Regions from separate parts of the Homo sapiens genome. Here region 2 is linked to region 1. The links come from fine-mapping of genetic effects on gene expression. Tissue or cell type: whole blood. Region 1 holds a variant in brackets; the other region holds the start of a gene. All regions are shown on one strand. Distances are between the middles of the regions.

Region 1 (8,103 bases):
AATGGGGCTGTCTCCCCATCCTGGCGAGGGAGGAGCACAGGCCTTGGGATGCTGGCAGGTGCTAGGGGGACAGGTAGGATAGGTGTGTGCGTGGGACATCGGTTTCCAGGGGTCTGCGGGGAAGGGGGCTGCCTCTCGGCTCATCTCAAACACGTGCTCCTTCCTTTTCCCTCTTTCCCATGCCCGCCCTCCCTCCAGATCAATTTCGTATTTCTGTTCAACATCGTCAGGATCCTAATGACAAAGTTACGCGCGTCCACCACATCCGAGACAATCCAGTACAGGTATGTGAGGGGGTCCCTTGACCCCACAATGGGGACAGGAGGAGGTCATCGGGCCGTCCCCCTGCTTCCTGGCAGAGCCCTCTGCCCCAGGCCTCACCCAGGGAGCTCGCTCAAGCTCCCGGAAGAAACACCACCACTGTCTCCCGCCGCCCACTGGGTGAGGCCCTGCCTGCCGCATGGGCTCAGACCTGTGTCCACCTCTCGCCCCCAGGAAGGCAGTGAAGGCCACCCTGGTGCTCCTGCCCCTCCTGGGCATCACCTACATGCTCTTCTTCGTCAATCCCGGGGAGGACGACCTGTCACAGATCATGTTCATCTATTTCAACTCCTTCCTGCAGTCGTTCCAGGTGGGGCCTGTGACCAGATGGGGGCCCCACAGTGAGCTTTCCTGAGGCTGCTCTGGCAGCCATGCCCTCACTAAGGGGGTCCCGTGGGACTGGCACACCCATGGCTCAGTTACATCCACAGAGTTAGAAGCCCGTACATGCTCAGCCTGAGCCTGGCCAGTTATCCCCATCCCAGCCTGGGTCTTCATCCTACCAGCCCGCACCTACTGTCCCAGCACCTGTTCTGAGGATGCAGGCAGCCCAACCAAATGCCCTGGGACAGGTCACACAATATTGAGGAGACCGGAGTCTGCCTGGCTCCAGGCCTGTGACCACTGCTCACTCAGAGTGGACCGTGGAATATCTGCACCCTGAGGCTAGGACCCCACCCAGCTCTGACTCCAGGGGTTCCTGGGTCAAATTGTCCCCCCCCCACCATCTTGTCCCCAGTGCCACCCCACCAGGCAGAACAGCTCCGCAGGTAGGTCACTGACCACTCCCTCCTTTCCCTCCTTTCCAGGGTTTCTTCGTGTCTGTCTTCTACTGCTTCTTCAATGGAGAGGTATGAAGCTGGGCCCTCGGGGTGGCCTGGGATATCCAGGTCCTCAGACCCCACTCCAGGGCAGCTCCATTGGTGCTGCCCGGCCTTGCTGGAGTGCCAGGGAGAGGAAGCCTTGAGATACCACCCGGCCTTAGGGGAACAGGAATCCTTCTCACAGGGGCTGGAGCCAGTTTAGAAGGTCAACTATGCAGCCCCGAAATAACATGCCAGCACCCCACATGTGCACTCAGAGCTGGGTGAGCAAGGAAGCCCAGGCCGCAGGGCCTCATGGAAGAGAGAAGCCAGAGCAGAGGTGGTGACAGAAGGAAGCTTCCAGAAAGAGATGTGTGCCAAGCAATCAGGTCTGTATGGACTCAGGGAGCAGAAGAGAGACCAGCACATTCCCCCGCTACCTGCCACAGAAAAGCCCACACACCAAGAGCAGGCTCTGGGGAGTCAGGCGGCCGTGAAGCTTGGCATGTGCAAGCCAATCATGAGGCCCAAAGCCCCAGTGCAGCTGACGCAGGGAAGAAGCGCACTCGTACCTGGGCTGGGGTGGATGAGGACATGGAGCAAAGAGCAGACACAGCCCCTAGGGCCTGGGAGCTTCCGAACACTCCAGAGGAATACACTTGCCTGTCTCTGCACAGGGCACTGGCGAGGTGTCTATGCAGGCCTGTGTCTCTGTGGATGATAGCACATTCCACTTGCAAAGTCCATCAGCAGAGACGGGTCCTGTGGGCTGGATGAGAAGAAGAGAGGGGGCCAGTAAGGCAAACAAACAAGGGATGTTTATGGAGCATTTATTCTGTTCGAACCATGTGCAAGCTAGGATGTGAGAGACACCATCCAATTTCCAAAAAAATTCAATTACCAAACAAATGAAGCTTAAATGGCACCGGGTAGAGCCAACTTTAGAAATGACCAAGACAGAGAGCTTTCCCTTTCAGGCAGTAAATGCCATGGTTAGTCAGGCAGGGGAGTCTAGCAGGAGGTAGAGAAGGTGGAGGGGTGCAGAGGGGACGGTCTTCAGGAGGGAGGAGGAGGCGCACCAGGTGTGTGAGCTGGGCGCACACCACCAACGCCCTGCAAGGAGCAGGGGCCCAAGAAGGCTGAGGGGGCCAAGTCTCCAAGCTGCGCTCTCTGGTCCCAAGATGCTAATTTTGAGGTGGCAGAGTGAGTCAGGGAAGGGAAGGCAGTGTGTCCAGAGGAAACTGGATGATCTGGGAGGACAGTGTGGAGTAAAGGAGGTGTGGAGTCAAGCTTCTCCAGGAAAAGGATAAGGAAGAGGCCCCTGGAGAGAGGCAACAGCATCAGGGAAGGACCTGTTTTGGAAGCAGACAGTTCCTTGTCATGAGGGTGGCAGTCGACCCATGAGAGCAGAAAGCAGAGGAGGGGATGGTCCCAGAAGCCCAGGGTTGGTCCCTGGGAGCCAGCTGAGCCTCTGCCTTCCCCACAGGTGCGCTCAGCCGTGAGGAAGAGGTGGCACCGCTGGCAGGACCATCACTCCCTTCGAGTCCCCATGGCCCGGGCCATGTCCATCCCTACATCACCCACACGGATCAGCTTCCACAGCATCAAGCAGACGGCCGCTGTGTGACCCCTCGGTCGCCCACCTGCACAGCTCCCCTGTCCTCCTCCACCTTCTTCCTCTGGGTTCTCTGTGCTGGGCAGGCTCTCGTGGGGCAGGAGATGGGAGGGGAGAGACCAGCTCTCCAGCCTGGCAGGAAAGAGGGGGTGCGGCAGCCAAGGGGGACTGCAAGGGACAGGGATGAGTGGGGGCCACCAGGCTCAGCGCAAGAGGAAGCAGAGGGAATTCACAGGACCCCCTGAGAAGAGCCAGTCAGATGTCTGCAGGCATTTGCCCATCCCAGCCTCTCTGGCCAGGGCCTTACTGGGCCCAGAGCAGAGAAGGACCTGTCCAACACACACAGCTATTTATAGTAGCAGACACAGGGCTCCCCTGCCCTACTCATGGAGCCAGCAGCCAGGCAATGGTGTGGCCCTGCACTGGCCCTTGGCCTCCACACTCAGTGGTGCCCCTGCAGTTGGGTGGGGTACGCCAGCAAAGGATCAGTTTGGCTGCCTTATCCCAGGGGCTGTCACCTAGAGAGGCTCACTTGTACCCCACCCTTGTTCCTGTGTCCCCTCCCCAGCCATCCTCCCGCCTTGGGGGCTCCATGAAGGATGCAGGCTTCCAGGCCTGGCTTCCTCTCTTGGGAGACCCCTTCTCTGCCTAGTCCACAGATTAGGCAATCAAGGAAGACGCCATCAGGGAAGCCACATCCTTAGTCAACCAGTTGCATCGTGCGGGGCAAAATGAGGAGCAGAGGCATGGAGGAGGGAGGCGTGGGATGGGAATAGCAGAAACCAACCATGTCTTCAGTGATTGAAACTCATACCCCATTGCCCTTTGCCCTCCAGTCTCCCCTTCAGAAACATCTCTGCTCTCTGTGAAATAAACCATGCCTCTTGGAAGTGGCCTCCCCTCAGGTCAAGTCACCCAGGCACCCGAAGAGTGGTGTGGGCCAAGGATCGTGGCTGGGTCTGAGGGGGCCACATCCATCTTCCTTAGTGGGCTCGGGCCCTGGCCTCGGGCCAGTTCTCTCTCTCTCTGACCTCTGGTAGGTTTGGAGTCTTTATGGTCAAAGCACCTGCAGGCGGGTCTGTCCCTTATCACTCCAACCAGGCTAATACCTGGCCCCAGCCCCCAACCAAGGGCAGCTTGATTCAGCCTGGAGGAGGTGTGCAGCTCATCCAGCAAGCCAGGGCCTGTCCCAAAGGCCAAGGCTCTGGAATCTGGTGGGCAGGGTAGACATGGCCCCTCAGTTGACCACCAGGGCAGCTTCCAGGCTTGGCTTCCGTCCCTGTGTCCCTGCAGCGGAGCCGCAGGAGTCAGGGAGAGAGAAGCATCAGGCCATTTCTTCCAAAAGAAACCAATGCTCTAGGTACCCCCTACAAAAATAAGTTTTGAAAAATCATGTATCCCGTCTTGCACATTTTTAAGTTGACATGTAGTATTTTTTACTTAAGTTTTAAATCCTTCAAAGGTGTGATTTCTGCCATTTTGTAAATATTTACATTTTTAAATAAAACTGCTGCAACAATTTAAAATACATCAAATGAATTCTGATCACCATGGTGATTTAACACCCACCCTCATCTATTTTAAAAACACCTGACCCAGCTCTCCTTCTTCTTCTTTTTTTTTTTTTTTTTTTTGAGACAGGGTCTCACTCTGTCATCCAGGCTAGGGTGCAGTGGCAAGATCTCAGTTCACTGCAACCTCCACTTCCCAGGCTCAGGTGATCTTCCCAACCCAGCCTCCCGAATAGCTGGGACTACAGGCACGCACCACCATGCTGGGCTAATTTTTGTATTTTTTTGTAGAGACAGGGTCTGGTCATGTTGCTCAGGCTGGCCAGCTCCGCTTTAATTGTGGGAAATGTTACATTGTTTCTTTCCTCTTTAATGTGTAGCTTCATTCCATTGCCCTATAGAATTTTATACTAATGCATTACTTTTATGGCTGAAAGTGTTTTATTGCTCACTTTGTCATACTTCTCTGCCACACAATATATGTATGAATGAAAATTAAAATATTTCATTTTCTATGACCAAAGTTTCAAGGGATTTTAAAATAATCTTCTGGGTTGAATTATTACAATTATTTTTTGATACAAAATACAGTAAGCCACTGATTAAAACAACATAGATACCTAAAGTTTTTATAAGTAACTAGTTAAACCTAAAAAGGAAAATGTA[T/C]TGAAAACACAGCTTAATGAAATGGATAGGAAGTTAATGGCTCATGAATCTACAGGTGAATATTTATTGCTAGAATAAATCAGGACTCAGCATCAATTCTTTTCTTTTTTAATGTTTTATTGTTTATAGTGGGGTGTGCTGAGAAGCCTTTTCAATTCAGTAGATGATCTGGCACTCCAGATAGTCAATTCTCTATACTCTTGCTGAGATGTACAGTCAAAACTGCATAGTGATCTGTCACCAAAAATGACCTATCAGCTGGCTGTTTAATTAAGTGTCCTTTCAATTTGGCTGAAAAAGATGAACTGAACGTTATCTGACTTGCAGTAGGCTTTGGGCGCCCATGTCATCAGCTCATTCCATTTTTCACCACCAGCTGTGTGGGAATGCACTGCAGGTTAAGTGTGAGCCCTGCTTCTCTTGTCAAGAGGGCAGGGAGGTTGGGGCACCCTGATTTTATTTTCTCAAGTGACAGAACTCAGAACTCAGGGTATCTTAGAAAGTCTTACTGCATACCCAGTGGCAGCATGATGGCCGCATCCATTAGCATCATCAGGGCTCTTGTAGAACAAGGAGCCGCAAATGGTTTGGCCCCCAAGAGGCCACTTGGAGATTTCTGTGGCCAGATGAGGCTGTGAACAAGTGCTTATCGGAGCAGACGCTGCAGAGCCTGGCACCAAGTCCCAGGCATTCATCACTGCTTCTTAATGCAGCCCCCGGCTCATTACGCCAACTGTCCTTTGCTCCCTGGAGGGACCAAGGGCCTGTGATCCCTGCTGGGAGGCCAGGCCTGCCAAGGCCAACACCAGGAAGAGCATCAAAGTTGCTAACCTTTGTTCAGCAGGCACTTCGATATGCTCTCTCTCCAGTTCAGAGGAGGCTCCTCCTTGATCCAACCCCAGCCCTGAATCCCTCATTACTCCGTCTCCTGGTTGTGGCTCCCACTGAGCTCTATCCTTAAAATGCCACCAGAGCCATTAGGCCATCTCTCTGGGTCCCTACTTGTTAAGCTCGTTAGGCACCTGTTCCTTAAGCCAAGCCAGTCCTCATTAGCATCTGCTTCGGCGCTGGCAGCACCTCGTGGAGCTGGCCTTCCTGGAAAGTGGCCTCATTAGCAGACTCTCCTTCTCCGTAGCAGGCAAGTTCCAGCACCCAGATCCTGGAGGCCCTTAGGGTCCCTGTTTAACCCTTTCACCCACCCTGATTTACACAACTGGGGAAGACCTGAACCAGCCACAGGTCCTCACACCAGCCTCTTGGCCCCACTCCAAGAGAGAGTAACAGGCAGAGCCCTGACCCCAGCACAGCTCCAAGTCCCTGGGTCATCATCAAAGTGCGGCTAGAAAGTACCTGCTGGGGTACAAGCTGGTAAATGACACACGGCGGCAGGAGTGGCGAGTGGTGGAACATCTGTGGGGCAGGAGGTGAATGGCAGGGACGGCATTTCTCTCCCAGTCCCCTGCTGGGAGTGCCCATGGTGGAGGTGCTACCTGAGGGCCTGAAGCCTCAAGACCTGTGAGGGATGGCACTCGCAGAAAGTCCCTTCAGCATATAGACTTCCCTAGAGATGGAGGCCGACATTCCCGCGGCCACAGAGAGGGAGGCCCAGATGGAAATGACACAAGGGCAGGGACACAGAAAGACTTGTAGGAACACACGCACAGACCCAGAGAGGGAGGCGCACGCACCTTCCTCCATCATTTCCCATTCACAGAACACCAGGGTGTGCCAGATATGGAAGTAACAGAAAGACAAGTTTCCTGTTTCAAGAAACTCATAATCTGGTTGAGAACAGCACAAGGAAAAGGCAGGCAAAAGACACATCGGCTCCTGCAGCCTGCGCCTGCCCCCAGCCCCCTGCCCTGTCCATCTCCTAGTCCATGCCCACAGTGGCCCCAAGCCAGCTGGCTTCTAGGCACAAGGACCTCAGCTGCCCTCCCCACTTCTTTCCCCTTCACCCCCATGCAGGCCCGGATCTCCAGATGCCCCAAAAACAGAATAGGGAAAGAGGCCCAACTGTGCCGCTTGTGCTTTCCCCAGCATCTTCAGAAGCCCTGGGCAGGTGGGGGACGTGTGCTGATGCAGCTGGACGGGAAGGGAGCTGTCCTATGAGGGACAGGTGAAGGGACTAGAAAATGGCACGCTCAGGAGAACAAAGTATCCCCTGCACACGTCATGGGTCATGGAGGCAGGCCTAGGGCTGGGAGGCCCAATGGGAGTTCTTCCCTAGAGTGACATTTCAGCCAGGGTCGGGGAGGGTTTGGTGGTAAACAGCTGTGCCTCAGGTGGAACAAGTGGCTGGGGTGGCCGAGAGCATAGGAGGGGCTTGAAGCAGGGGGACCCCTTCAGCCAGGGAGCCCGGCCCCCTGTTCTGAGAGCACACCTGGAAGCAACCGGGTGGCATGTTGCACAGCAGGCTTCAGAAGTCATACTTGGTGGGGTCTAGGAATCCACACGCTTCACAGGCCCCCGGGTGATTCTGACAGCTGGGGTGTGGGCCAGCAAAAAAAGACACATCCCTTGTCTCTTCTTTCCAACACACACACGTGCTGTAGAAAGCAACAGCGACGCCAGGAGTGGTGGCTCATGCCTGTAATCCCAGCACTTTGGGAGGCCATGGTGGGCAGATCACCTGAGGTCAGGAGTTCGAGACCAGCCTGGTCAACATGGTGAAACCACCCCATATCTACTAAAAATACAAAAATTAGCCAGGTATGGTGGCACGTGTCTATAATCTCAGGTATTTGGGAGGCTAAGGCAAGAGAATCGCTTGAACCCGGGAAGCAGAGGTTGCAGTGAGCTGAGATCACACCACTGCACTCCAGCCTAGGTGACAGGGTGAGGTTCAGTCTCAAAAAAAAAAAAAGAAAGAAAACATGTGAATCTACTCATCAATATGCCCAGGATGGCTTCCAGGCTCTGCCTCGAAGGTGCCGTTAATTTTCCTGAGGGGGCTGTGCCACTTAGACATGTTAATTAGCAGGAGGAATGGGCAGAGGGCATCACTGCCCTGTGTTGACTGAGTTTCTGCCAGATTTTCCTCTTAGGTATTTGTTTGTTTAGGCCTCGGGGCCCTCCCATACAGCGCTGCAGCAGGCCTCCCTCGTCACAGAACCATCACCCGGCAAAACCTATGCATTAGTCAGAAATGTCCCCTCTAGGGGCTCCTTCAGCAGTCTCCACAGAC
Region 2 (8,103 bases), 170 kb after region 1:
TATTTTCCTTGGTCCTAGAACCATTTGCCTTATGTGGGAAGAGATTGATAAGTGGAAGTTTCAGTGGGACAGTAGGTGGGAGTGACCGAAGAGAAGGATAAAAACTGGCCATGAGGGACAGAAGTTGGAACTCTAGCTGCTTCTTTAGCTACCTTATCAGCATAAGCATTGCCCTGAGTGATGGGATCTGATGCCTTTTGATGGCCCTTGCAGTGAATGACTCCAGCTTCCTTTGGAAGTAAAGTGGTCTTGAGAAGAGTTTTTATTAAAGAGGCATTAATGATGGAGGACCTTTGCGTAGTGAGGGAACCTTTTTCTGCCTATATAACAGCATGGTGGTGCAGGATATGGGAGGCATATTTAGAGACAGTATAAATATTGACGTGTAGTCCTTTTGCAAGAGTGAGGGCTCAAGTTAAGGCAATGAGTTTGGCTTGCTGAGAGGTAGGGGAGCGGGGCAGAGTGGTAGCCTCAAGGATAGATGTGGAAGATACTACTATAGCATAGCCTGCCTTTGCTGGTGAATGGCAATTAGGCCTGGTGGAACTGCCAACAATAAACCAAGTGCGATCAAGGTGAGGAACAGGAAAGAAAGAAATATGGGGAAATGGAGTGAATGCCAGGTGGATTTAGAGAGATACAGTCATGGGGGTCAGGTGTGGTATCAGGAATAATGGGGGCTAGCTAAAACAGTAGGGTTAAGTTATTTGGACAGAAAGGCTACAGGGCACAATCCCAGCTCTTGTGTAAGAATTCTGACTGCACAGCCCTGCACTTCGGCTGTGTGTAATGAAAAAAGGGTTGGGATGAGTTACGGAGAGCTAGTGTGGGAGCAGCTTTTAGGGCTGTTTTTTAAGGAACGGAAAGAGGAGTGGGGAAAGGATTTAGGATTAATGGGGTCAGCTAGGTTTGCTTTTGTGAGTTTATATAATGGTTTAGTCAGGATGGTAAAACTAGGTATCCAAAGGCGGAAGTACCTACCCATGCCTAGGAAGGAAAGGAGTTGTTGTTTTGTAGAAGTGGCTGGGGTTTGGGAGATTAGCCAGTCAGGATCAGCAGAGAGAGCATGTGTTTTTTCATGAAGAATTATGCCAAGACAGGTAATGGATGAGGAAGAAATTTGGGCTTGACTGAAGCAATGGGGGCTGTCCATGAAGCCTTGTGGCAGTACAGCCCAAGTAAGTTGCTGAGGCTGATGGATGTCAGGATCAGTCTAAGTGAGAGCAAAGAGAGGCTGGGATGAAGGGTGCAAAGGAATAGTAAAGAAAGCATGTTTGAGATCCAGAACAGAATAATGGGCTATGGAGGGGTTGTGGAGGGAGGTATTGAGGATAGGAGAGTATATGGGTTTGGCACCACAGGGTGGATAGGCAAGACAATTTGGTTGATAAGGCGCAGATCCTGAACTAACCTGTAAGGCTTGTCCGGTTTTTGGACAGGTAAAATGGGGGAATTGTAAGGAGAGTTTATAGGATTTAAAAGGCCATGCTGTTAACAGGTGAGTGATAACAGGCTTTAATCCTTTTAAAGCGTGCTGTGGGATGGGATATTGGCGTTGAGCGGGGTAAGGGTGATTAGGTTTTAATGGGATGGTACGGGTTGCGTGATCGGTTGCCAAGGAGGGAGTAGAGGTGTCCTACACTTGTGGATTAAGGTGGGGGGATACAAAAGGAGGATGCAAAGGAGGCTTTGAACTGGGAAAAAGGGCAGCATTGAGGTGTGGCTGTAGCCTAGGAATAGTCAGGGAAGCAGATAATTTAGTTAAAATTTCTCGACCTAATAAGGGAACTGGGCAGGTGGGGATAACTAAAAAGGAGTGCATAAAAGAATGTTGTCCAAGTTGGCACCAGAATTGGGAAGTTTTAAGAGGTTTAGAAGCCTGGCCATCAATACCCACAACATTTATGGAGGCAAAGGAAACAGGCCTTTGTAAAGAAGGTAATGTGGAGTGGGTAGCCTCCGTATTAATTAAGAAGGGGATGGACTTACCCTCCACTGTAAGAGTTACCCAAAGCATCTGTGATGGTCCAGGAGGCTTCTGAGGCGATCGGGCAGCGTCAGTCCGAGAAGATCTGTAAAGGAGTCAGTCAGAGAGCCTTGGGCCAGACAGAGTTCCAGGGGCTCTAGCAGTGGCTGCTGGGCGAGTTGGACAGTCTGATTTCCAGTGGGGTCCTGCACAGATGGGACATGGCTTGGGAGGAATCCCGGGCTGCACACATTCCTTGGCCCAGTGGCCAGATTTCTGGCACTTGAAGCAAGATCCTGATGGAGGAGGTCCTGTAGGAATGCTTGACCACTGCGGCTTAGGCATTCTGATGTTCTTGTGTGCTGGAGGTGCGGCTGGGTTTTGTCTTACAGCAGAGGCAAGTAATTGTAACTCAGAAATGCATTGCTGTCTGGCTGCCTCCTTTCTATTATTGTACACCTTGAAGGTGAGGTTGATTAATTCCTTTTGTGGGGTTTGAGGGCCGAATTCTAATTTTTGGAGCTTTATGTAACGTCGGGAGTGGATTGGGTACTAAAATGCATACTAAGACAGCCTTCTGACCTTTCAGAGTCTAGGGCTGTAAAGTGTCTAAGGGTTGTTGCCAAAAGAGCCATGGACTGGGCTATGTTTTCATATTTGATGAAAAAAAGCCTAAATGCTAATTGATTTGGGAGAGGTTGGATAAAGAAAAAGGAGCATTAACCTTGAGGAAATTGTTGGGTAGGTAGGGGAGGGCTAGTTGCGGAACGAAACTGTAAGCTGGACCGGGTGTGAGGAGGTGAGGTGATAGAAGGATTATAGGGTGGGGGAGTGGAGGCAGAGGAAGAATTGGGACCTGGCTCAGCCTGGCGAGGAGCAGCCTGGGGAGGAGGGGAGAGGTTAGATGGGTCCATAGAAAAGGAGGATTCACAGGACTCAGAGCTTGGGGTGGAGACTGAAGGAACAGACAGGAGAGAAAGAAGATTTGGGATGAGTCACATTGGGAGCAGAGATTAGGAAGGGACCAATGTGTAAAAGAATGCCTGGACATCAGGCACCTCAGACTATTTGCCCATTTTACGACAATAATTATCTAGCTCATGTAGGATGGAGAAATTGAAAGTGCCGTTTTCTGGCTATTTGGAACCATTGTTGAGTCTGTATTGGGGTCAAACGGTATTGCAGAAGAAAATAAGGCGTTTAGGTTTTAGGTCAGGTGTGAGTTGAAGAGGTTTTAAGTTCTTGAGAACACAGGCTAAGGGAGAAGAAGGGGGAATGGAGGGTGGAAGGTTGCCCATAGTGAAGGAGGCAAGCCCAGAGAAAAGAAGGTAGAGACCCGGAGAAGGGGGGTGGTGAGCAGCCCTGGGCTGCAATGTGGCTGAGCAGCCAAAGCAGGCGACCCACAATTGACTTGCCACCAAGGGAATGTGGGTGAATGACCAAGGCAGGCATCCCCACGGTGATCAGACACCAATGAAATGTACGTGAATAATCAGGCAGGTGTCCCTGCAGTGATTAAACACCAAGGGACGACTGTTTTCCTGAGTCCGTGACCGGAGCTGGAGTTTTGGGTCCATGGATAAAATATGTCTCCTTTGTCTCTACTAGAGAGGAGAAAGAACTGGAATTGGAAATAGAGGGAGATTTAAGGGTAGTGAGAGAGGCTGGAGAAGACAGTGAAAAGACCGCTTACCCGATTTGAAATTGGTGAGATGTTCCTTGGGCTGTTTGGTCTGAGGACCCGAGGTCATAGGTGGATCTCCTCACAGAGTGAGGGTGAGGACAGGGGACTGGTCTCCTGAAGGAGTCCTCCTGTCCCGGGTCTTCGGCACCAAATGTCACACGTGTCCGTGTGAAGAGACCACCAAAAGGCTTTGCGTGAGCAATAAAGCTGTTTATTTCACCTGGGTGCAGGTGGGCCGAGTACGAAAAAAAGAGTCAGCAAAGGGAGTTAGGGGTGTGGTAGCTTTATAGGATTTGTGTGGGTAGTGGAAAATTACAGTCAAAGGGGGTTGTTCTCTGGTGGGCAAGGCGGGGGCCGGGGGGGTGGAAGGTCTACAAAGTGCTCAGTGGGGGAGCTTCTGAGCCAGGAGAAGGAATTTCACAAGGTAATGTCATCAGTTAAGGCAGGAACCAGCCATTTTCACTACCTTTGTGATTCCTCAGTTGCTTCAGGCCATCTGGATGTATACATGCAGGCTTGGGCTCAGAGGCCTGACACAAGTTGGCACATTTGATCCTATCAACTTTAGTTTGCACTTTCACTTTTGATTTAAGAACATACTTTCTGTTTCTCAGAGGGCAGCCTCTGATGGGAATTTTAATACTCACAAGCATCAGTGGCTATATGATTGAATGTACTTCTTCAGTGTGAGTAAGTGACAACTTTCTGTAGCATGATATCCCTTATGGACACGATCCCCATTCAAAACGTTTTAAAACTATTTTATTGGGGACATTTATTAGCATGTTAAAACTCTTTTACAACCTATTAGAGCATATGCATAGAACATAAAATGTACACTGCCAAGAACAAATTTAAGGATAGGAAGAAAAGCTTACATTTTTTAAAAAGTATAAATTGAAATGTATGCAGTGTAATTTAAATTTGATTACGTTAACCTCCATTTCATCAGGACCACGTGTCGCGTTTTAACAAGAGTTTCCCTATCATGTCCAGGCTTTGGCTCTGGTTGCAGGCGCTGGGTAGGCACTTTTACGAGGAGGGACCTGGCACGATGGCACCACAAATTCCCAAGTGTGTCACCTCTGGGCGAACTTGGGCCTGTCCACTCGGCCCTGCGCGGTGGCCAGGGGCTCACCCTCTCGCACCGGGCGTCCCTCTGCGCGCAGCTTCTCTCGCCCCCCCGCGCCAGACCCGGGCGAATGGCAGCACCGTGGGACCCTGCCTTGACCGCCCCCGCCCTTCGGCGGCCTCTCCCAGCAGCCGGCAGGCTCTTGGGCGCGCCAACAGAGGGGCGCGGCTGCGGCTGTAGTCGCAGCCAGTTCCCGTTCCGGGCCCGCGAGGCAGCCGCCCCGGTCCTGCCCCTCCCTCGCGCTACTGCGGGAGCAGCGTCCTCCCGGGCCACGGCGCTTCCCGGCCCCGGCGTCCCCGGACCATGGCGCTCTCCGGGCTCTTCTCTAGCTCTCAGCGGCTGCGAAGTCTGTAAACCTGGTGGCCAAGTAAGTCCCAGCGACTGGGGATTCGCGCGGGGCAGGCCCTTTCTGAGGTCCTGGGCGCTGCGAGTGAGGAGGCGCAGGGAGGCGGGATTTGCGTGCGGGCGGAACGCAGCGCGGCTCTGGAGGAGCTCTGGGTGGAACCAAGCGGAGAAACCCGCGAGTTTGAAGCATGTAGCGAAAGTTGAGAGGGATGAACTTCACAGTCAGCGGAATCGTTTATCCCACTGTGGTCGAACGCAGGGGTTCTCAATCGTGCCAGCAGCTTAGAACCACCTGGGGAGCTTTTAAAATCCAGATATCCAGGCTGCACCCTAGATCAATTCCATCAGAATCTCACGGAGTCAGACCCAGGCCTCCGTATCTTTTAAAAGCTCCCCAAGTGATTCCAGTGTGCAGCCAGCGTTCGAGGGTTTGTGGCAAAGGCTGGAAGGGCAGACAGGGGCCTTCATGGAGTCCCGCCTGCAGACGGGACAGCAGCTCCCAGTGTCCTGCTTGGTCCTGGAGAGAGGGTGAGAACTTCCCTTGGGTTTCATGCTCCACAAAGTAAGGAAATGAGACAATGCTTGGCAAGGTCGCCTGAATATCACATTCAAAAACGCCTCCAATGTGTGCAGTTGTTTTGGCACATTGTGAAAAACATAGGAAATGACAGAGGTTGATGTCTCATTAGCTCTGCATTCTAGGAAACATTTCGGTTGTTGGTGTTTGAAATTAAGTCTGGGGAAGCTAAGCTAGTAAACCCATGGCCTTGATGACTTCTGGCCTTTCTGCTTTAAGGGTGAAGCCAGGGCCGGGCGCGGTGGCTCACGCCTGTAATCCCAGCACTTTGGGAGGCCAAGGCAGGCGGATCACCTGAGGTCGAGAGTTCGAGACCAGCCTGGCCCAACATGGTGAAACCGTCTCTACTAAAAAAAAAAAAAAAAAAAATTAACCGGGCGTGGTGGCGCATGCCTGTAATCCCAGCTACTCGGGAGGCTGAAGCAGGAGAATTGCTTGAACCCGGGAGGCAGAGGTTGCAGTGAGCCGAGATCGCCCTGTTGCGCTCCAGCCTGGGCAACAAGAGCAAAACTCCGTCAAAAACAAACAAACAAACAAAAAACAAAAAAACGGTGAAGCCAGAAGTCGTGCTTGCCAAAGGGTCGAGTTTGTTCTCCCTCAAAGCCCCTGTTGAAGATTGAACTATCACTTTCAGGGAAGAGTAAAAGAGTAACTCCACGATGCATCTTAGAGAGGAGTGGATTCCCTGTTCTCACCCAGGCTTAGATGCCAGGGGCCAGGTAGCTGAAATCCAGGCAAACCAGGCATTGACAAAGTACAGACTTCTACCGAATATGCCAGACAGATAAGCAAGCTGTGTTTAAAACAAACAGCAGAGTGGTAGAAGAGGGCTCTTTCAAATATTGTAAGAAGAGTAGGTTTTATTTTTGTGGAGTGGAGAAATAAGTTCACGCTTTGGAACCCATCAAATCTGGGTCAAAACTCGGATTCTGTCACTTCTATGCTGTGACTTTGGGCAAGTTCCTTGACCTCTCCAAGCCCCTGTTTTCCCACCTGTAAAATAAAGAGCAACCCTCTCCTGAGGCTAGCATAGTTCAGCGAGATGATGTGCATCACACACCTGGAAGGTGGTGGCGCTGGCAGGTGCTCTGGCAGAGGTAGTTATTAGACACTGGAGTGGCAGTTTGTGCCCGTTAATTGTTTACTTAGTACAGCCACTATGAGGGAGAATGTCTATAAAATGTTCCCTTCAACGCTCCATTCCTTCTCCTGCCCTGCTGCCCCGCTCAGGGCCTTAGCGGGCTTTAAGTCTGAAATCTTAGGCTGCAAATCCCCTCAGTCCCCCAGGGCGTATTAATGGCTCTGGAATACAGTTTTACTGCATGTGATAGGAATGAATATTTTGACACACACACACTCAAAAGCTGTTCTTAATCTTGAGACTTCCTCCTCTCTGTTGCCACATATATATCTTTTAAATGGCTTTCCAAGAAAGCTGGGCTGTGCACAGTGTCTCAGAATTAGTGTATGTGCACACACACGCACGTTGCTCCCTGCTGACAACATCCTCAGACCATACCCTTGGTGTTCCTGTTTTGCTCCTGACTCTTGGCCTAGGGACAGTGAATCTTTCTTGAATGACCAAGGACAGTCAGGGATCTGAGGAAGGGAGAACCCAAATTCTACAATTGCTGATGCCTGCGTCCCAGCTGGAACTTTACCCTGGTACGTGCTCTGTGCATCATGGATGGTCACTTTGATCCTAACAGCAGTGCTGTTTAGATTAGACATCAGAAATAGAAACAGTAAGTAATATAGGCATAAAGATCAAGTGTTTTTCTAGTGTATGTGTGATCACTGATATTTGCTTACACAAGACTATCAAAGTCTTATCTCTTATTCAAAGAAAAGGATTCAATATTTGTTCAAAATCTAAGATATGAACGTAGGATTTAAGGTTTAAGTTACTAGTTTCTTCTATCATTCTTATTATTGGGGGGATTTTTTTTAGGCAAGAAGAAATTAGAAAAGCTAAAATGTGTACTTATGCTGAATTTTTGTCATGCAGAGGCTCTAGGTATTTTGCAAGTTTTCAGAAGTCCCATTTTCTTTTATCTTCTAGGGACAGTCAGTTGCATGTCACACAAGGGGCCTCCTTTGATTTATCCAAAAGGTCTGACCTGGTTTCTGGAAAAACTCTTTAGCGCATCAAATACTCGTTGAGGGCAAGTGTTGTTTCTAAACTTGACTCTTGTGGTGAGAGGTGAGTAGTCACTGGCATGTCAGTTAGCTGACATTTTTTACCCACGCTAGAAAGTTCATTCAGGCAAGACTTCCTGGCTTGAACTCTTATTTAAACATGTGTTTTATCTGGAACTGCCACAGTCCAAACTGTGGGCAGAGATTCCTGTGCAGAGTTGGCTAAGGCAGGCATGCCACCGGCCCTTCTCTTCGCCATC

Evidence for each region. PIP is the estimated chance that this variant, and not a neighbour inherited with it, causes the effect.
Region 2: NOD1 starts here. The variant in region 1 is fine-mapped to the expression of NOD1 in whole blood (TOPMed, PIP 0.95).

What each region holds. Positions count from the first base shown.
Region 1 is chr7:30,648,108-30,656,210 of GRCh38, reverse strand. CRHR2 (corticotropin releasing hormone receptor 2) reads left to right here. Exons shown (of 12, transcript NM_001883.5): 9 at 199-284; 10 at 496-631; 11 at 1,131-1,172; 12 at 2,611-4,269. The coding sequence ends at 2,751. It overlaps LOC124901609 (a long non-coding RNA gene), which reads right to left. Exons shown (of 2, transcript XR_007060276.1): 2 at 1-1,893. Among named protein-coding and RNA genes, the nearest start is that of CRHR2, 30 kb to the left of the region's middle. RefSeq lists enhancers at 283-1,482, 2,331-3,320. The variant T/C (reference allele first, on the strand shown) is at 4,917.
Region 2 is chr7:30,475,652-30,483,754 of GRCh38, reverse strand. NOD1 (nucleotide binding oligomerization domain containing 1) reads left to right here and starts at 4,971. Exons shown (of 14, transcript NM_006092.4): 1 at 4,971-5,149. RefSeq lists a silencer at 4,843-5,082 and an enhancer at 4,731-5,475.